Linked DNA regions of Homo sapiens. The protein of the gene in region 3 interacts with the protein of the main gene of each other region in a pairwise test. Each region holds a gene or a part of one and is shown on either strand. Other genes may lie near its edges.

Region 1 (4,914 bases), on a different chromosome or scaffold from region 3:
CTCCCGCCTCAGCCTCCCAAAGTGCTGGGATTACAGGTGTGAGCTGCCGCGCCCGGCCTGCATTCCTGTTTTGTTCCTCTGCCGGATTGCAACTTCTGCATTTGATTTTTAGTCCATTAGTGGTCACCCTTTAAAAGGTCAACACGCAGCCGGGCGCGGGGGCTCCCGCCTGGCATCCCAGCACTTTGGGAGGGTGAGGCGGGCAGATCACGAGGTCAGGAGGTCGAGACCATCCTGGCTAACAGGGTGAAACCCCATCTCTACTAAAAATACAAAAATTTAGCCGGGCGCGGTGGCGGGCGCCTATAGTCCCAGCTACTCGGGACGCTGAGGCAGAAGAATGGCGTGAACCCGGGAGGCGGAGCTGGCAGTGAGCCCAGATAGCGCCACTGCACTCCAGCCTGGGCGAAAGAACGAGACTTCGTCTCAAATAAAAATAAAAATAAAAAATAAAAGATCAACACGCATACTTGTTAGGTTAATCAATAGCTCCGCCTTCTCCTGGACCTTAGAACGCAGAAGCAGCCCCGTGGGGCATGGCATCATAGCCCAGCCAAGAGTTGGATTTGTACCTAGTTTTTCCTCTTTGCTATCGCCTTATCCACACGTGTTGAAACTCACTCGCATGTTTGCTGAGTTCTGTGCTCACCATTTCGTTCCTACATCTCAATTTCTCTTCTATGTTCTGTTATCTTCCTCCAGATAGACATGTTTTTAGTTTTTTGTTTGTTTGTTTTTTAACTCACAACTATGCTCAGGACAAACAGTCATCAGTGCTTCTAGTTGTGGTTGGTTTTTAAAAAAGGTTCTTTCAGCAAGGGTTTTGTCATGGGAAATTCTTGATTATTTTATTGTAATTCTTTGTGTTGTTTAGTTTTTTGTTTGTTTGTTTGTTTTTTGTAGAGGCAGGTTCTCGCTGTGTTGCCCAGGCTAGTGTGGAACTCCTGGGCTCAAGCGGTCCTCCCGCATTAGCCTCTCAAAGTGCTGGGATTACAGACGTGAGCCACCACACCCAGGCTGTTGTCATTCTTGATTATTTTTGTTGAAAATGTTTCTATTTCACCCTTATTCCCAAGCTAAAGTTGAGTTGCGCAATGGAGTCTAGGTGGACTGTTCTTTTCTCTCAGCCCTTTCACAATGTCTCATTGTCTCCCTGCTTCTTCTGTAGCTGCTGACAAATCTGTAGCTGCTAACAAATTGTCCTCCCTGAGTACCCTGTGTTTCTTTTTTTCTGGGTACTTTGATCACTTTCTTTCTTTTTGGCATTCTGCAGTTTCACTATGACATGTTTAGGTGTCAGTTTTTGTTGATTCTGCTTGAGACTTGTTATATGTCCTTTGAATATTTGAGTTTTTCAATCATTCTGGAAGATTCTCAGCTATTAGCTTTTCAGATATTGCCTGACTCTCATTCTTTTTTCCTGTTCTTCTAGAACTGGCAGCCAGTGCTGGACTTCTGACTCTCTTCGTTGTGTCTTTCGGTTTCTGTTTACTGTTTCCCATCTCACACTGTCTGTGCTGAATTCTGGGGATGCCCTGAGGCCTTCCTGTTTGCTCATTTTCCAGTTCACCAGTTTTCTCTTTGGCCATGTCTAATTGGAATTTTGTTCACATTTCAGTGGCTGTTTTGTAAGTTCTATTTCATTCTATTTCAAATAGGAATTTGAAAATGGACATTTCCTTTTTCAAGTAGAAATGTCAGGCTGTTTCTGTGTCTTATTTGCTCATCTTTTTGACTGCTCCTTTTATACTGTGTATCAGGTTAGTCATACTTACCCCACCGTCTCTATCTGATGGTTTGGTTAGCTTCAGTTCTTGGGAGTATCATTCGCCTGTCTTCTGTCTGCTGGTCTTCACTCATGGTGGATCATTTCCTTGTGGGTTTTGCAACAGAACTTCTATGGGGATTGGTGTGGCCTCAATGGAGGGTGTAAGTCCAAATGTCCTTCTGTTTTGGCCAAGCACTCCAGGGTAAGCAGTTGGAGGCCATTAGTTAGTGCGGAGGGGATGGTTCCTGAATTGAGAGGTGGTTTCATTTGAATTCATTTGAACTCCAGGCACATTGTTACAAATTTTCAGAGGAGGCTTTTTGTTCATTGGGCATAGAGCCCAGGCTAAGCAAGGAAAGCTTCCTGGTCTTTGCCCTGCCTGCCTCTGGGGCTATCAAAGGATCACCTGGCTGTCTGCTTCTCTTTGCTCCCAGAAGTTTCCCTTGCTTTCCGTCAAGCTTGGCTCTGCTCGAAATAGTGTCGTAGTTTACCCAGTTTGGTGGGAAGAGGGTTTTCGATTTATAAACAGAAGTCTGATTCTCTCCCTGTTCCTGTTTCCACCTCGGGGCTTCCATGCCCTCAACTGTCTGTGTCATCCTCTGGGTGACTCACCAAGAGGAAGGATCTAATTCGGGGACTGCACATCAAGGGCAGCCTTGATGCTGGCGTAGGTGCCCAGCCCAGTCAGCGCACCTAGCCCCGGGCACCGAGACAGCCCGCGAGACAGCACCTGCAGCCGCTTCGCTCCATGGCTGCCATTGGTCACATCGGGCTGCTCCCTGCCCTGAAGGCTTAGGACTTTTCTGAGCCTCTGCTGTGCCAGGCTTTGTGGGCTCCTGGCCCTGCTCTGGTGGTCCTCAGAGCCAGCAGCCTTTGAAGGCTGTGAAGCATTCCCTTTCCCCTGGCTTGATAGGCTCTGTCCTGTGGCCGTCTGTTTTTTTTTGGAGGGGGAGCTTTTGAGATGGAGTCTCACTCTGTCTCCCAGGCTGGAGTGCAGTGGCACGATCTTGGCTCACTGCAACCTCCATCTCCCGGGTTCAAGTGATTCTCCTGCCTCAGCCTCCCAAGTAGCTGGGACTACAGGTACACGCCACCATGCCTGGCTAATTTTTGTGTTTTTAGTAGAGATGGGGTTTCGCCATGTTGGTCAGGCTGGTCTTGAACTCCTGACCTCAAGTGATCCACCTGCCTCGGCCTCCCAAAGTGCTGGGATTATAGGTGTGAGCCACTGTGCCTGGTCCTGTGGCCTTCTTATTTCCCCAAATGCCAGGCCTGCTCTGTCTTGGGGCCTGTGCCAGGAGCACTCTTTCCTCTGCTGCCCCATGGCGCAGCCCCCCTAGGCAAGGCCCGGCCTGCCCACCGCCACCTTTCCTGTCTCCTTCCCTGCCCCACTGCTCTCCCAAGCACTCGACACCCCGTCAGTGGCGCTTTTCTCTCTCCCTGCCATGGACTGCAAGCTCCATGGGGTCAGGGATTTTTGTCTGTTTTGTCCCTGCTGTGTCCCCTGCATCGGGTGGCTAGTGAGGGCTCCAGGTGCTTCAAGGAGGTGGAGCGCACTGGGTGGGAAGGCAGGCTCTTACCGGTTGGAAGATTTAGATAAGCTTTGCTGGGCTGGTGTGCAAGGCAGGTGGGCTCAGGAGATGGGCAGGGCCTGTGGCTCCCACTCCAGCCCTGAGGCCTTGCTCTGTCCAGCTCTGGGGCCCTGGCCTTATTCACCCAAGGCTCCAAGAGAACCTGCAGAAGGCAGCTGGTTCTACGCCAGGATGCCCTGGGCACAAAGACTTGCAGACCCTTCCCTTTGTCCACAGCGACTGTCCAGCTCTCAGAACACCTGGGGAGGAGGGCTGTGTCCTTGAGAGCACCGTGGGAAGGAAGGTCCAAGGCCTTCGACCTTTAGGATTCACATCCCCGCCCCGCCAGCCCAATCTAGTTCCCTGGTTTCCCGGGCCAGGCCCCTTTCCACCCTGCATGGCCCTGAGCGGATACTGCGTTCCGTGTCTTCCCCCAGCCCCCAGCCAATGATCCCTGAGGCTTCCCCCTCAGGATCACACCCACCCCTGGATACAGTCCTCGGGTCCTTCACAGGACATTCCCACCACTTCAGCCACACCCCAGCACCCTCAGAGGCGGCCTTCGCCCTTGCTCCCCACCTCTGCTCCTGTGGGGAATCTAAGGATCAAGAAACTGAGAGTCAAGGCCATTGATGAGGGTCAGGGGTGCTGCCACGGGGCCTAGAGTGTGACAGAAAAGCAAATTAAGACAGGAGCAGCTCCTGGGAGAAGCAGACACCAAACAATACGGCTGCTGGCCCAGAGGTCAAAAACCATGGCCTAGAGGGGGCGGTCAGGAAGTGGGACATTAGGCCGGGCGTGGTGGCCCATGCCTGCAATCCCAGCATCTTTGGAGGCCAAGGCAAGTGGATCACCTGAGTTCAGGAGTTTGAGACCAGCCTGGCCAACATGGTGAGACTTCGTCTCTACTAAAAATACAAAAAAAATTCGCTGGGCTTGGTGGCGGGTGCCTGTAATCCCAGCTACTCGGGAGGCTGAGGCACAAGAATCCCTTGAACCTGGGGAGGCAGAGGTTGCAGTGAGCCAAGATCACACCACTGCACTCCAGCCTGGGCAACAGAGCAAGACTCCATCTCAAAAAAAAGAAAAGAAAAAAAAAAGAAAGTTGGCGTTTCAAAGCCAAACAGCTCTGGGCGTTGGATGACAAAGTTCAGATGTGCCCCAGGAGGGGCGACATCAGTGGTGCAGGACAGAGGGCCGGTGGAAGGAGCTGGCTGTACGTAGAAACAAAACCAGATGCCTACTGGTGCATTTAAAAATCAACGTTATTGAGACGTAATTAACATACTATACAATTCTTCCTTTTCCATGTACAGTTTAAATTCATTCACAGAGTTGTGCAGCCATCATCACTAACTCCAGAATGTTTTATTTTTATTTTATCCCCCAAAGAAACCCCAGACCCATGAACAGTCACTCCTCATTCCCTCTCTCCAGCCCCTGGCACCCACTCATCTGCTTCCTGTCTCTGTGGATTTGCCTATCTGGACATGTCCTAGAAATGGAATCATGTGCTCTGTGGCATTTTGTGACTAGCTTCCTTCACTGAGCATCATGGTTTCAAGATTCGTCCAT
Region 2 (5,375 bases), on a different chromosome or scaffold from region 3:
CAAGTAAGTAAGACTACAGGCATGCACCACCATCCCTGGCTAATTTTTAACATTTTTTGTAGAGATGCGGTCTTGCTATGTTGCCCAGACTGGTCTCAAACTTCTGGCCTCAAGTGATTCTCCCGCCTCGGCCTCTCAAAGTGTTGGGATTACAGACGTGAGCCACTGTGCCCAGCCTCAGTGTCTTTGTATACCAGGGGTGTTGCTTTGGGTAAGATAGAATCTCTCTAAGCCTTCACGTCTTCAGCCATTAAGTAATATTTTGGTTATGGCTGTGTAAAAAACCTCCCCAAAATGTTGTGGCTGAAAACAACAACCATTTTATTCTGTTTCATGGTTTTGTGGATCAGGAATGAAGCTTGACTGGGTGATTCTTCTGCACTATGCAGCATCAATTGGGTCACTTGGTACTATTTGGCTGGTGCTAGGCTGGGCTGGAGGAACCAAGATGACTTCACTTTTCTTTGAGACAAGGTCTTGCTATGTTGCACAGGTTTGTCTGGAACTCCTGGCCTCAAGCGATCCTTCCTGACTCAGCCTCCCAAACCAAGATAACTTCATTCTTATATAGAGTTCTCCACCTGGTCCCAGGTCCTCTCCATGTGAACTCTCCCATAGGGTGCCTGCACTTCTAACATGGTGGCTCAGGGCTCAGAGAGTAAGGGCTCCTTGGCCAGGTGCGGTGGCTCATGCCTGTAACCCCAGCACTTTGGGAGGCCGAGGTGGTCGGATCATGAGGTCAGGAGTTCGAGACCAGCCTGGCCAATATGGTGAAACCCCGTCTCTACTAAAAATATGAAAAATTAGCTGGGTGTAGTGGCGCTCGCCTGTAGGCCCAGCTACTCGGGAAGCTGAGGCAGAAGAATCGCTTGAACCCACGAGTCAGAGGTTGCAGTGAGCCAAGATAGTGCCACTGCTCTCCTGCCTGGATGACAAAACGAGACTCCCTCTCAAAAAAAAAAAAAAAGTAAGGGCTCCAACATAAGAAGAGGAAGCTGCCAGTCTCTTTAGGGCTGTGCCAGAAAGTGTCATGGTATCACTTTTGCCATATTTTATGGGTCAAGCAGTCACAGAGTCTGTGATAGAAGGAGTGAAAAAGAATTTGGGGCCATCCTTAATCTGCCAAAAGTAGGCATAAAAATACTCCTAAGCCAGGTGCAGTGTCTCACACCTGTAATCCAAGCTTTTGGGAGGATGAGGTGGGAGGATTGTATGAGTCCAGGAGTTCGAGACCAGCCTGAGCAACACAGTGAGCCCTCGTCTCTACAAAAAATAAACAAAATTAGCTGAGCATGGTGGCATGCGTTTGTAGTTTCAGCTACTCGGGCGGCTGAGGTAGGAGGACCCCTTGAGCCCAGGAAGTGGAGGCTACAGTGAGCCGAGTTCGTGCCACTGCACTCCAGCCTGCGTGACAGTGAGATCCCAGAGATCCTCTCAAAAACCAAAACTTCAAAAACAAAAACCCGCAGAAACTCCTAGGGCTATGAGGAGTAAATGAGATAACTCATGCAGAGGCAAATTTACCATGAAGCAAATGAAACTTCAACCATGGGGGTCCTTAATTGAACAGTTTCTTCCACATCCGGGCATCTAATTTTGTATTAATAATTCTCCTTTTTTCTTTTTCTCAAAGAGTACCCTCGAACTGTATGACAATCAAGCCCTACCCAAATGCCAGTATCAGTACTTACTAAGCATACTGCCTGGGACAGAGAGATGCTCAACACGGGGCCCCTCCAGGCACTGGGCTGGCCTGGTCCCCTCTCTGTGGCTGAGGAGAGGGCTCCTCCTCTCACTCTGCCCTTTCTGTCTTTTCAGGATCATTTCTTCTTTCTTCAAAATGAAAGTAAAACATGCTGGGAATAATTTCATAATTACAAAACTGCCCTCCCAATTGGCCCCTGCCTCTACCCCCTGACCTCACCACCCACCAGGGAGGTGGGTCTTATTCTGGGCATCGTGCCAAGTTCTTAGCGGGGCCCTCTAGAATCTCTAAAGCAAATCAGGCTGAAGAGGGGAAAACCAGCAGGGGGAGGCAGCATTCCCGGTGCCCAGTATGGTCTAGGAGGCATTGAAATTCCAGGGCCGAAGTCCTGAGACAAAGATCATAATGAGACAGGAAGGTGGCAAAGGAAGGAGCCCATTTGCATGACAATAATTGAGCCAAGAATAGAAAGCCACAGGGATGCAAGGGTGAGGCTGGCGGCTGAGCTGGGCTAAACCTCACAAATCAGACTACCCAGCTCTGCTCCGCAGGGGAAGGGAGACTGAGCCCTGGGCCAGGCTTGGCAGAGAGGGAAGCGGGAGGACACGACCCCAGGGCATTGTGGGAACACTGGCCAGGCTGGACTTTGCCTTCCTCCTCGTCCTTTAGCCGGGAGCCTGTCTTTGCTTGCCTTTGCCTTTGAGGCTCTGTGGCTGTGGGGCTGAGTGGCATCATGGCGGCTCAGAAAGATCTCTGGGACGCCATTGTGATTGGGGCGGGGATCCAGGGCTGCTTCACTGCATACCACCTGGCCAAACACAGGAAGAGGATCCTCCTGCTGGAGCAGGTACTGTGTCCCTTCTGCACCCCCAGCTGTAAGGACTGTCCTACCCTCCTCCCCTGCAGAAGGGTTTTCAGAGCCAGCAGGCTACAGGGCAAGGCCAAAGGGACTGAATCATCAAAAATTCTGTGTAATTTGTATCTTAGCTGCCTAGTGTGTTTCATGGCAATTCAAAGAAGTTTCACATCCCTCATACCCACATTGGGTTTCTAGGCACATTTCCTCTTTCTACTGCTTCCCAGTTCCTGCCCTTGACCAAGCGTCCTAGGCCCTGTTCTCTTCCTTCTCACTACTCTTTCCCTTCTGTGCCCAAATGGTTGATCCCCACCCCAGAAAAATAATTGGTTCTGCTCTAGGTAACCTAAAGTAAAGATAATTTTGCCTAGAGGCAAAGGTTGATTTATCAGCCTAAGAGGTAGGATTCTGTCTTGCATATTCCTGGCCTCTCACACCAGAACCCAGCAGAAGCTTCTGTTTTTTTTTTTTATTTTTTATTTTTTGCCACCTCCAGATAATAGCAGCCTCCTTGTTTGACACATGATAAGTGAGACTGAGGCCTTATTTTTCCTGCTACGCAGTGCAGTCTGCAGTGACCACTGCATATGTGGGTGGGCCCTGTGTGTCTGCAGGGTCCTTCGAGGACAGGGCCACCCAGCTATCCACTGCAGTGGACTCTCCCTTTCCATTCTGCCTGCAGCTACCCAGGCTGGCTATGGTTTGCTCTTCTTGGTAATGAGCCAGAGTAGTTAGAAACCTTCTTCATTTCTCTATCAGTTTTCTCAAAGCCCAAGGGATTCCTGGTTCATCCTCTCAGGAAACTCATTGTTGCTGAATCCTGAGGTGGTTCTCTTACCCTGAGTGATCTGTAGCCACAGAGAAATAAAGTCAGCATCAGTTTCCTTGTTCATAAAATGAAGGGGCTGGAGTAGTTGAACTGGAAGGTTTTTTCTAATTTTGCTTCTTTGTGAATCTAAGTGAGGTGAGATTGCAGCAGGATGGTTGAAGACTAGCTAACAAAAGAACTTCTGGATGTGAACAACGTTAGCAAAAAGGAAGCCTAAGTTAGTGCTATTGAAGAACTTCTATCTTGATTGCCAAGTCAGTAAATTGGTCATAAAGAGAGAATTTGGAAAGATTGTGTGAATTTTTTTTTGTGGGGGGACAGGATCTCACTCTATTGCACGGGCTGGAGTGCAGTGGTACTATCATAGTTCACTACAGCCTCAAACTCCTGGGCTCAAACAGTCCTCCTACCTCAGCCTTCCAAGTAGCTGGGACTACAAGTGCCACCACACCTGATAGTTTTTAAATTTTTGAGAAGACTGGGTCTTGCTATATTGCCTAAGCTGGTCTTGAATTCCTGGGCTCAAATTATCTTCCTGTGCATAATCCTTCCCCAGATTGTGTGGAAATATTTGAAGGATAAATGGCTCCTGGTTGACAGCACATGCTGATATGGCTCTTAACAGGGGATGCAGTGTGAGGGGTAATGGCTTCCATCATCTCTCTTGTTTTCCACTTCCAGTTCTTTCTACCACACTCCCGAGGAAGCTCCCATGGACAAAGCCGGATAATCCGAAAGGCGTACCTGGAAGACTTTTACACCCGGATGATGCATGAGTGCTATCAGATATGGGCCCAGCTGGAGCACGAGGCTGGAACCCAATTGCACAGGTGGGCTGTGGGAGGAATTCCTTGAATCGTGGGGCTCTGCACCTGCAGGTACTTTTAGTGTGTGAAGTGGCAGCGCCATGGAACATTTGGAATGCAATGGGAGGGACACAAGGCCTCAAGAAGTACCAGATGCATGGAAGAGTTCTGCTGTCATGGTGGTCACCCCACAGGTCCAGCTGACTCTGGCCAGGCTCTGCGTTGCAGGACTGGGTTCAGACCATGTGTCCAAGGCTAGCAGAAGCAGTACTGGAAAGCCTGCTGGCAAGGCACCGTGTGGCAGATGCCCAGAGTGGACAGGAGTCTGCTGGAGTGTGTATTTTCAACTCTGTGGAGGCCTCTGCAACTCTTTTAGGGCAGGGGTTGAGATAGAGGAGGAGGCTGCTTTCAGGAGGATTCTTTTTTTTTTTTTTTTTTTTTTTTTTTTGACAGAGTCTCGCTTTTTTGTCAGGCTGGAGTGTAGTGGCGCCATCTTGGCTCACTGCAACCTCCACCTCCCGGGTTCAAGTGATTCTTCTGCTTCAGCCTCCCGGGCAGCTGGGACTACAGGTGCGCACCACCACACCCAGCTAATTTTTGTATTTTTAGTAGAGACAGGGTTTCACCATGTTGGCCAGGATGGTCTTGATCTCTCGACCTCATGATCTGCCCTTCTCGGCCCCCCTAAGTACTGGGATTACAGGTGTGAGCCACCGTGCCTGGCCCAGGATTCTTTATAGTCAAATCAACATCCTAACTTTTCCTGAGGGGTCCTCACCCCCTTTAGCAGCCCTATAAACCCATTTTGTTCTCTCTGAGTACCTTTTCCTGTAGGAACAAAATGGGGACGTTCCCCAGGCTGGATTGCTTGCCAGGGAGTGAGCCTCCACGTCTTTCTCTGCTGCCTTCATGGCTCTCTCCAACCCTTGACCTTTCAAACACTCATGGGAAAGAAAGCCAATAATCTGTGATGCAATGGGAACTTTAACCATCCCACCTCCCTCCCACCTCCTCTGTGACTCTTAACTGAACTTCCTACAAACCCTGGCTCTACCTGATAGGGTGGTGGTTATTTTAATGGCCAGGAACCAAGAGGTTAGTGTTCTGTTGCAAAAATACCATTAACTTAAGAACAAAGTGAAATCCATTATGCAAATCAGCCAGGGCAGCTAATTACAG
Region 3 (5,558 bases):
TCTCTTACCTGTTACTTCATCACTGTGAGTAGACAATAGTTTCCAAATGAGGTAAGGACCACCAAGGATAACAGCAAAGAACAAGAATATTGGCCAAGATTTTGCTGAGGTAGCTGCTCGGTCCTCAGCACCAAGGCATGCCACAGTTCCTTCACTCTCTGCCCAGAGGTCTTCATTCTCAGAGCCTCTTCTTAAACCTAACATCCGCTGTAGCCGTCTGTAAAGATACCGTATAGTCCTAACCAATGCAAAAGCTGAAAACACTTTTGTAAAGTGTATTTTCAATCGGGAAAAGTGATTTGCTACATCCAATACAGCCCTGAAACTGTTATAGACAGCTGAAAAGGTAGCATCCATCATCATACTGACAGAGGCAAATGCATGCACAATACTTTCAATGGACTGAAATGCACCCCTGCTGCTTTCTTCAGCTTGCTGAACAAATCTACTGGGTGGAAGATCATCTACACGGAGGCGGTTGTAGCCCAGCCCATTATATCCATAACTATAAGGACTATAGCCTCCATAAAATGAATTTCCATAGGCACCATATCCAGAAGAAAATGAACTGTAAGCAGGTCTAAAAGTGTTCACACTGCTACTTCCTGTCTGCTGTGATGGCCTTGGAAGAATAGGTGGGGGCACTCTGGTAAGTGCTGGTTGTCCAGGTCTTGTCATTAAAGTAGGACCCAAATCAGCAGATCTAAAACCAAAAAAGATTCAAAACAGTTATTTAAGCATACAATAAATTCAATTCAAAGTAAGTATTAAACATCTCCTATATACCTGGTGCTATGACAAATTCTACTGAAGACTGATTAATTGATTTAGAGACAGGGTCTCACTCTGTTGCCCAAGCTGGAGTGTAGTAGCACAATCAAAAGCTCACTGTAGCCTCAACCTCCCAGGCTCAAGTGATCCTCCCACCTCAGCCTCCTGAGCAGTTGGGACTACAGGTGCATGCCACCACACCTGGCTAATTTTTTATATTTTTTGTAGAGATGGGGTTTCACCATGTTTCCCAGGCTGGTCTCAAACTCCTGGGCTCAAACGATCCATCTGCCTTGGTTTCCTAAAGTGCTGGGATTACAGGTGTGAGCCACTGTGCCCAGGCATCACTTTAAAGTTTAAAATTTAATAGGTTTTAGTACACTCACAGAGGTGTGTAACTATCACCATGTCTAATTCAGAAGATTTTCATCACCTCAAAAAAGAAACCCCATATTCATTAGCAGCTATTCCCCATTTCCTGCCCACCCCTCCACCCATCTTTGGCAACCATGAATCTACCTTCTGTCCCTCGGTTTGTCTATTCTGGACATTTCATATATAGTTAATTCTTGTTATTTAAGATAGTTATATCCTGTAAAGTTGCTGTGAACTCTGAACCAGCAGATACCAAATCACTGCTTCTTTCATCAACCAATCAATACATATACTTATTTTATATGTTTCTGTTTAAAGTCACTTTATTCCAGGTATATTGTTAACTCATTAACAACTCATGGCCAACAGCACAATAGCCCATGCCTGAATGAAGCTTATCTAACACCTGTATTTTCTCTGTAAGGCACACTACAGCATTCCTGTGCTTAGGAACACTAGAGATCACTTCAGCACTATGCTTGGGGGCCATTTTAGACAGCAAAATCACCATAAAAAAATGTGAAAAAACCTGGCACTAAACAGACTTTGATAAAGACAACTGTTTACAGCATGAGAGCTGAAATAAGAAACCAGAGTGTTGCTTTTTTGTCTCTCAGTTGTCCCTCAGTTGTCAGCTGAGGGACAACTCAGATTTTTACCTGATGTACGTTTGTCCTCAAATGACTGTGATAGTGCCAGGAATATTGATTTTCAGATTACAAATAAATTTTAGTGAGCAGACCAATTTGAAAATACAGAATCCACAAATAATGAGGATCTATGGTAAATGGACTCATACAATACGTAGTATTTTGTGACTGGCTTCTTTCACTTAGCATAATGTTTCCAGGGTTTATCCATTTTATAGCATGTATCAGCACAGGCAGCCCTTGGTATCTGTGGGGGAGTGGTTTCAAAATCTCCTTCAGATACCAAAATCCATGAATGCTCAAGTCCTTAATATAAAATAGTATAGCATTTGCATATAACCTATGCACATCCTCCTGTATACTTAAAATCATCTCTAGCTTATAGTATCTAATACACTGTAAATGTATGTAATTACTTATACTGTAGTGTTTAGGAAATAATGACAAGGAATAAAGTCTGTACATGTTCAGTACAGATGCAGTTTTTTTTTTTCTGAATACTTTTTTTTTTTAAGAGACAGGGTCTCACTCTATTGTCCAGGCTAGAGTGTTGTGGCATGATCATAGCTCACCGCAGCCTCCAACTCCTGGCCTCAAGTGATCCTCCCACCTCAGCCTCCCAAAATGTCAGGATAACAGGTGTTAGCCAACACGTCTGGCCTATTTTCCGAATATTTTTGATCCACAGTTGGTTGATCAGATGTGGAAGGCCAACTGTATTTCATTAATTTTTATTGCCAAATTATATTTATTCACACATCAGCTTATGTATATTGGGGCTGTTTTTACTTCTTGGCTATTACAAATAATGCTGCAATGACCATTTATGTACAAGTTTTTGTACGGACATGTTTGCTGGGTTATATGGAAACTCTATATTTAGCCTTTTGAGGAACTGCCAGATTGTGTTCCAAAGCAACTGTACCATTTTACATTCTCGCCAATGTATGAGGATTTCCAATTTCTCCACATCCTTGGCCACATCTGCTCTTATATTTTTCATTATAGCTATCCTAGTGGGCGTGAGGTGGTATTTCACTGTGGTTTTAATTTGCATTTTCTTGACGGCTAATGATGTTGAGCATATTTTCATGTGCTTATTGGTCGTTTTACAATCTTATTTGGAAAAATATGTATTCAGATACTTTGCCCACTTTTAAGTTCGCCCTCTTTTTTTTTTTTTTTTGGAGACAGGGTCTCCCTCTGTCATTGAGGTTGGAGTGCAGAAGCGCAAACACAGCTCAAGTAATCCTTCTGCCTCAGCTTCCTATGTAGGTGAGACCACCACTCCCGGCTAACTTTTTGGTAGAGATGAGGGTCCCACTTTGTTGCCCAGGCTGGTCTCAAATACCTGGGTTCAAGCAATCCTTCCACTTCTACCTCTCAAAGTGCTGGGATTACAGGCATGAGCCATTGTACTTGGCTTAGCCTTTTTATCACTGCTTTTTAAATTATTGTGCTACATGAGTCAAAAATATCTTTAAAAATTTTTTTGAACAAAAATTCAATTAAGGCTCACACACTGCATTTGGTTGGTTTGTTTCCTTTCTTTTCTAAATGAGAACAATCCCATTTTTTCAAATATCCCTGACCTTCTAAAGAGTCAACCCAGTTTTTTTCTAGAAATGTCCTACCCCCAGCCCAGGCATGGTGGCTCATGCCTGTAATCCCAGCACTTTGGGAGGCTGAGGCAGGCGGGTCCCCTCAGGTTAGGAGTTCGAGACCAGCCTGGCCAACATGGTGAAACCCCGTCTCTACTAAAAATACAAAAATTAGCCGGACGTGGTGGTGGGTGCCTGTAGTCCCAGCTACTCGGGAGGCTGAGGGAGAATCGCTTGAACCCCAGAGGCGGCTGTTGCAGTGAGCTGAGATCATGCCACTGCCCTCCAGTCTGGGTGACACAGTGAGACTCTGTTTCAAAAAAAAAAAAAAAGAAAAGAAAGAAATGTCCTACCCCCAGATTTGTGTTTCCCCCAAGTGTTGTTTAACTTGTACTCTTATTTCGCCTCCTATTAAATTAAGATTGCATTTAACGGTTTGATTGCAATCAGGTTCAATATTTTTTGGCAAGAATAATTCATAAGTGATGTTGTTTACTTCACACAGTATTACTTTAGGAGGCGCATTTGTGAAGCTAAATTTGATTAGTTGGTTAAGGAGGTGACTATTAGATCTTTCCATTAAAATGTATCTTTCCCTTTGTAATTAGTATATAATCTATGGGATGACAGTTTTGTACCACAAATATTCTATTCCTCAGCAACTGTTCATTTGATAGTTTAGCATCGATTCATCATCCTTGCCTGAAACAAATATTAGATGTGGAACTGCAAAATGGTAATTTTCTAATCCAGGCTAAAGTTTTAATTTAGACTTGTATCGTAATATTATAAACAAGCTACTAGAACTCTATTTTTTTTTCTTTTATTGGATCTGATATTTAAAAATGGAACAAAACTTAAAAGGAGCCAGTGAACGGCCAGATAGTGCAGTGCATTCAGGCTTTAATGAAACAGTTCTGCTCCCAAGTATAAGCAATAATAGAGAAAACAGAGAGACAAACAAACAGACATTATCTAGATTTAACACAAGACAGACTTATGGAAGAGAAACTAAACAGAAATGTAAAATGGTAAGGAGGGCTGAAGCTACGGGCCTACTCAATTCTGGTTCTGTAATCAGGCAGTGACAGCCAAGATGCAGGCTTCAATGAAGTAACAAAAACGAAAAGTGCTCCATTAAAATGGAACCAGTTCAATGCTTGAGGCTGGGAATGAGGATGTGCCACCTTGACTCCTACAAAGAGATTATAAAATTTGCTGATGACAGTTTAATATTTTGAGAAAGTTACAGAACTAAGAGAGGGAGAGGACTGTGATAAGGCCTCCAGCCCAGGAAATGAAACAACTGACCGACTTGATGTGTGATATCCTTAATCTAACTCGCTGTTTTTGTGTGTGTGTGTGTGTTTTGTTTTTTTTTTTTTTGAGACAGAGTCTCACTCTGTCACCCAAGCTGGAGTTCAGTGGTGCAATCACGGCTCACTGCAACCTCAAACTCCTAGGCTCAAGCGATCCCTCCCACCTCAGCTTCCCAAGTAGCTGGGACTACAGGCGTGCACCACCATGCCTGCCTTTTTTTTTTTTTTTCTTTTTGATATTTTTTGTAGAAATGGGTTCTCGCTACATCTTGAGAGGCTGGTTTCCAACTCCTGGGCTCAAGCAATCCTCCTGCCTTGGCCTCCCAAAGAGCTAAGATTACAGGTGTGAGCCACCATGCCCAGTCTGACCCACTGTTTTTACACCTGATTCTTACCTAAGTGGTAGGTAGAGGGAACAGGGAGAGGCAACAGGACACCTATTAGATAGAGAGAGGGGAACATGGAAGAGGGAAAGGAGAGAAAACAGAACTCCAAAATTACTACTCAAAATGACCATCTCAAAAATGCCACACACATGAAGAAATAAAAACACTAAGAAACAAAGCCAACAAAAATCAGCAAGTATAAAACCCAATTTAAAAAAACTAATTTTATATAACAGCTCAGGAATGATTTTAGATATGTTAAAAATTATCAGAGAGAGAAATGAAATAATATCTGTGAAATAAAAATTGAAATTAAATAAAAACATTTAAATATTTTAAAAATTCCATTAGAAATCTTAGAAAAGGTGGCCACAGGCCAGGCGTGGTGGCTCATGTCTGCAATCCCAGCACTTTGGGAGGCTGAGGTGGGTGGATCACAATGTCAGGAGTTCAAGA
Region 4 (4,459 bases), on a different chromosome or scaffold from region 3:
TTAATACCCCAGACCATCTTTCCATGTGGCCCTCATAGGCCCTAGAACAGTTGCTCAGGGGAATCCCGGAGCAAGAGATGAGCACAGGTGGGAGATTCTTCGCAGACTGTCTGCAGCTCACGCTAAGGCAAGTCAAGGTGGTGCCTCCGGAGACAGAAGCAGAGAGGGAGGCCAGGGAGTGAGTGTTGGCTTCATGGAAGGGGTGGGACTGGATCTGGGCCTAGACAACTGGGGGAGGACTGTGGTCCCTCATCCTCAGAGGATGCCCACCAGCTCCCCCGGACTAATACTGTTTCTCCTCTCAGGTGCGAGGAAGTGGCTGGAGTGGAGGAAGGAGGTTGAGCTGCTCTCAGATGTGGCCTACTTTGGCCTCACCACACTTGCAGGTAGAAGCTCCCACGGGACCTCAGGACTGAGGGCAGCCACACACACCAAGTCTGGGGACGGTGGCCAGGGGGCTGCCAGGCAGTGTGAGAAGCTCCTGGAGCTGGCCCGGGTGAGGTTGCTTCAGGGAAGTGCAGGAGGTACTGCTCCGAGGGAGGCGAGGCATCTGCTCCCAGCAGGGAGCCGACTTTTCCAGCCTTTGTGTGTCCCTGGGGTTCTTTGTTTAAGACTTTACCCCGGGTGCCACTGAGACCCATTTCTCAGTGGCCAGCCCTGGTGGCACCAGTGAGTCACAGTGCTGAGCCATGTCATAGGGTGCAGTGCCCGTGTGACAGTGCCCTGGTGGAGCAGTGGTGGGTCTGTGGCCCAGGCTGGTCACCACCCTTTAGAGGGAGTTGTTGACAGAAGCTCTCAGGCTCCCAACCCCAGCTCAGCATGTAGCAAGGACCACCGAGTGCCAGCCTGGTTCCCTACGAGGGGCTCGCCCCGGGCATCCTGCCGCCATGGAGAGTGTGCTCGGTGGGCGGGAGACAGATGTGGCTGCGTCACAGAGCATCTTGGGAAGTGAGGGGCTCTCAGAGATAAAGACCACGTCTTAGGGAAGAGCATTTTCCAGACCGGCAGAGCAAGCAGCCGGGAAAGGCCCTGAGAAGAACACGTCCTTGGCGGTTTGGGAGAATGACCCCGGGGGGCTCGTGAGTTTTGTAAGCCCATAGCTTTCCCTGTGCGAGGCTTGGGGCATTCCAGGGACGTGGGCAGGGGAGAGGCCGACCACTAGCTAAGACCAGACCTCAGGGGACAAAGTTGGGCTCAGGGAGACTACAGAGGCTGTGACAGTCCCCCACAGGATGGTGGTGGTACAGAGCAGGGGCGGCAGCGAGGGGGTGGAACACACAGGGAAGGTGCATGCAGGGTGCCCCTTGGGCTTGACCTCAGGAACCGGAGGCCTGGCGTTGCCATCCACAGAGATGGAAACGGGGAGCAGGCTTTTCTGGGTGGGGGCGCTGAAAGCTGTCTCGGCAGGGGTGGAATTGGGGTGCTCATCTGAGCATACATGGCGATGTCAGGTAGGTGGCGGACCTGCATGGCTGGCACTCACAAGTAAGGTCCAGGCTGGGCATAAATCGGGTGGTGCCAGCTGTGTGGTTGGTGGAGAGCCATGGGACTGGATCCGAGTGCTTGGGCTGGGGGAGGTGGCGGGGACAGCTAGGGAGAAAGGGGAAAGAGCAGAGACTCTTGGGGAGAAGCCAAGAGAGGGAGGGACACTGGCCAGCCAAGGCCCTGGGAGCCAAGGGCAGCCATTGGCCGGGCCTGTCATGTGCTGCCTGAGCTCACAGTGGGCTTAGCGACAGAAGGTCATGTTGGCCTCAGCCAGCACGGGGTGACAGTGGGCTCAAGGGCGACAAGATGGGGCTGTTGACAGGAGCCAGCAGAGGGTCGGCTGGCAGGGGCGCCGGGAGCCTGTCCCCGCGGCAGCAGTCTCAGGGTCCACATACCCATCCTCTTCCTCGCAGGCTACCAGACCCTGGGGGAGGAGTACGTCAGCATCATCCAGGTGGACCCATCGCGGATACATGTGCCCTCCTCGCTGCGCCGTGGCGTGCTGGTGACACTGCATGCCGTCCTGCCCTACCTGCTGGACAAGGCCCTGCTCCCCCTGGAGCAGGAGCTGCAGGCTGACCCCGACAGTGGGCGACCCTTGCAGGGGAGCCTGGGGCCAGGTGGGCGTGGCTGCTCAGGGGCGCGGCGCTGGATGCGTCACCACACGGCCACCCTGACTGAGCAGCAGAGGAGGGCGCTGCTGCGGGCGGTCTTCGTCCTCAGACAGGGCCTCGCCTGCCTCCAGCGGCTACATGTTGCCTGGTTTTACATCCACGGTGTCTTCTACCACCTGGCCAAGAGGCTCACGGGGATCACGTACGTAAGTAGCAGGCGCTGAGGGCACAGCTGCTTAGGCCGTCCTTGTCACCCCCACTGGACTTGGGTGCATGCACAGAGCTGGCCCTCCAGGCCTCTCAGCCAACAGGGTTCTACATCCAGCATCTGTGTCAAGGCAGGAACCCAAATCCTCTGCTTGGAAAAAAAGCAGATTTTGTTTAATTACACTTGGCTGAAAGATCCAAGGAAGTCCAGACCCTAAGTGTAGAATGAACTCCTGCTGCAGCCCCTCATGGACACCGGGCCCTGCGCTTAGCTCTTTACTGACCGGGGGGCCCCGGGTCACGCCTCACCACAGATCCCTGAACCTGGGCCCGTGACTGCCTATGTCACTGCTGTGGGGAACAAACAGCTTCTCCCAGACAGTGTGGGAGCATGGACTGCAGCCCCGGCCCCAGCCCCTCACCCCTCGCCCCTGCCTGGCCCAGCAGTCTGCCCCATCAGACGGCCGTTCCCACCTTCTCCCCTCCACAGCCGTTGGCACCTCTGCCTATCCTGACCCCCAGCTGATGCCCCTGCTTCCAGATTCAGCAACGAAGCCTCCCCCGTGGTCCCACCACCATGTCCACCTGCCACAGCGTTAGTCCCTGGCCCACCAGAGCCACTACTGCATGAGCTCCTTCCAGAACAGCCCTCTGAGGAACCCCCTTCCTTTTGTCCCTAGAGCTGCACTGGTCCCCTCAGCCCCTACTTGCCAGGCAACCCCGCCTCCACACACACCCTAAACAGGAGGCCACCGTGACCTCGTCGCAGAGCCAATGGTCAGGTCTTCGTCCTCAGCGTACCCAGCCTCACTTGCGTATTTGATGTGGTTTCTTGCCCCGTCCATGTTGGTGAGGGATTTGATGAGCTGCTGTGACAGGGGCATGGAAGTGGGGCTCAAACCAGATGGGAGGCTCCCTCTCTCCTAGGACAGCCAGGAAGTGGCTGGACACCCAGGGCCCATGCTGGCGGTGTGACCTGCCACCTCTGTATGTGGTTCCCGGCCCTGGGCCGAGGCTGTCTGGCTGTCTCCATTTCCCAGCCAGTGGAAAGTGACACGGGAAGCCGAGGGCAGCCAGCTGTCCTTCAGTGGCACGGTCAGAAGCTACCTGTGTCACCAGCAGGAGGGTGGCAGCAGTGTCCCTGGGGCCACGTGCCTTGTTACACTGGGGCTTCGGTCCCTGTAGCAGGGTAGCTGGTGGGCAGCGTCTGCAGCCCCACATTTCCGCTCCCCGCCTCCTTTTCTGAGAGGTGGTCCCTGGACATCCCCACATCCTCACCTGCTCTGCCAGCCTCATAGCTAAGACTCTTTCTGCACTGGTAATGCCAAGGCTGGTCTGGAGCTCAGGCCTCTCCGTCATGCTAGGCTACGAAGCAGGCACCTCAGACTCCCTGAACCTGCCCCCTGGCTTGATCGTTTCTGCCGGGCACTCCCCATGCCAGTGAGAGGCCTGGTTCTAACGTGCTCTGTGCCAACTGAACGTGTGACCCTCCCAGCAGGCGCTGAGGCCAGATCCCCTCAGGGTCCTGATGAGTGTGGCGCCATCTGCCTTACAGCTCCGTGTCCGCAGCCTGCCCGGAGAGGACCTGAGGGCCCGTGTTAGCTACAGGCTGCTGGGGGTCATCTCACTGCTGCACCTGGTGCTGTCCATGGGGCTGCAGCTGTACGGTTTCAGGCAGCGGCAGCGAGCCAGGAAGGAGTGGAGGCTGCACCGCGGCCTGTCTCACCGCAGGTGCGTGCGGGGGCCACACATGGGGGCTGGGGGTGTCCTGGGCACTTCACAAGGACCTGTAAGGTGCACCCACCTTGACGCTCTGCCCCACCTTCCCCAGGGCCTCCTTGGAGGAGAGAGCCGTTTCCAGAAACCCCCTGTGCACCCTGTGCCTGGAGGAGCGCAGGCACCCAACAGCCACGCCCTGCGGCCACCTGTTCTGCTGGGAGTGCATCACCGCGTGGTGCAGCAGCAAGGTGAGGTGGGAGCCTGCTGCCGTCCTGGGGTGGTCAGCGGCTGTGCCGGCAAGATGCACCTGGCTGCAGCAGAAGTGGGGAGTCTGGCTCTGAGCACCCTCCAGTTTTGAGGGTACAGAGGTGGGCATCTTTTTAAAGGCTCCCAGGTAGGTCAGATGTGGGTTCGTTGAGGGGGTTAAAGTTCCA

The links. Proteins that work in one complex are often made in the same cells at the same time.
Region 1: the proteins of PEX13 (region 3) and ABCD1 come close enough for resonance energy transfer, tested with the Homo sapiens proteins (one large-scale study listed by BioGRID).
Region 2: the proteins of PEX13 (region 3) and PIPOX come close enough for resonance energy transfer, tested with the Homo sapiens proteins (one large-scale study listed by BioGRID).
Region 4: the proteins of PEX13 (region 3) and PEX10 come close enough for resonance energy transfer, tested with the Homo sapiens proteins (one large-scale study listed by BioGRID).

The regions. Positions count from the first base shown.
Region 1 is NC_000023.11:153,730,164-153,735,077, forward strand, and holds part of ABCD1 (ATP-binding cassette sub-family D member 1), read left to right. Parts: intron 1-4,688; exon of another isoform or gene 4,689-4,914. UniProt on the Homo sapiens protein: ATP-dependent transporter of the ATP-binding cassette (ABC) family involved in the transport of very long chain fatty acid (VLCFA)-CoA from the cytosol to the peroxisome lumen.
Region 2 is NC_000017.11:29,040,788-29,046,162, forward strand, and holds the start of PIPOX (peroxisomal sarcosine oxidase), read left to right. Parts: upstream 1-2,353; 5' UTR 2,354-2,438; coding exon 2,439-2,552; intron 2,553-4,071; coding exon 4,072-4,220; intron 4,221-5,375. UniProt on the Homo sapiens protein: Metabolizes sarcosine and L-pipecolic acid.
Region 3 is NC_000002.12:61,026,564-61,032,121, reverse strand, and holds part of PEX13 (peroxisome biogenesis factor 13), read right to left. Parts: intron 704-5,558; coding exon 9-703; intron 1-8. UniProt on the Homo sapiens protein: Component of the PEX13-PEX14 docking complex, a translocon channel that specifically mediates the import of peroxisomal cargo proteins bound to PEX5 receptor.
Region 4 is NC_000001.11:2,406,298-2,410,756, reverse strand, and holds part of PEX10 (peroxisome biogenesis factor 10), read left to right. Parts: intron 1-305; coding exon 306-386; intron 387-1,898; coding exon 1,899-2,305; intron 2,306-3,801; coding exon of another isoform or gene 3,802-3,861; coding exon 3,862-4,037; intron 4,038-4,137; coding exon 4,138-4,273; intron 4,274-4,459.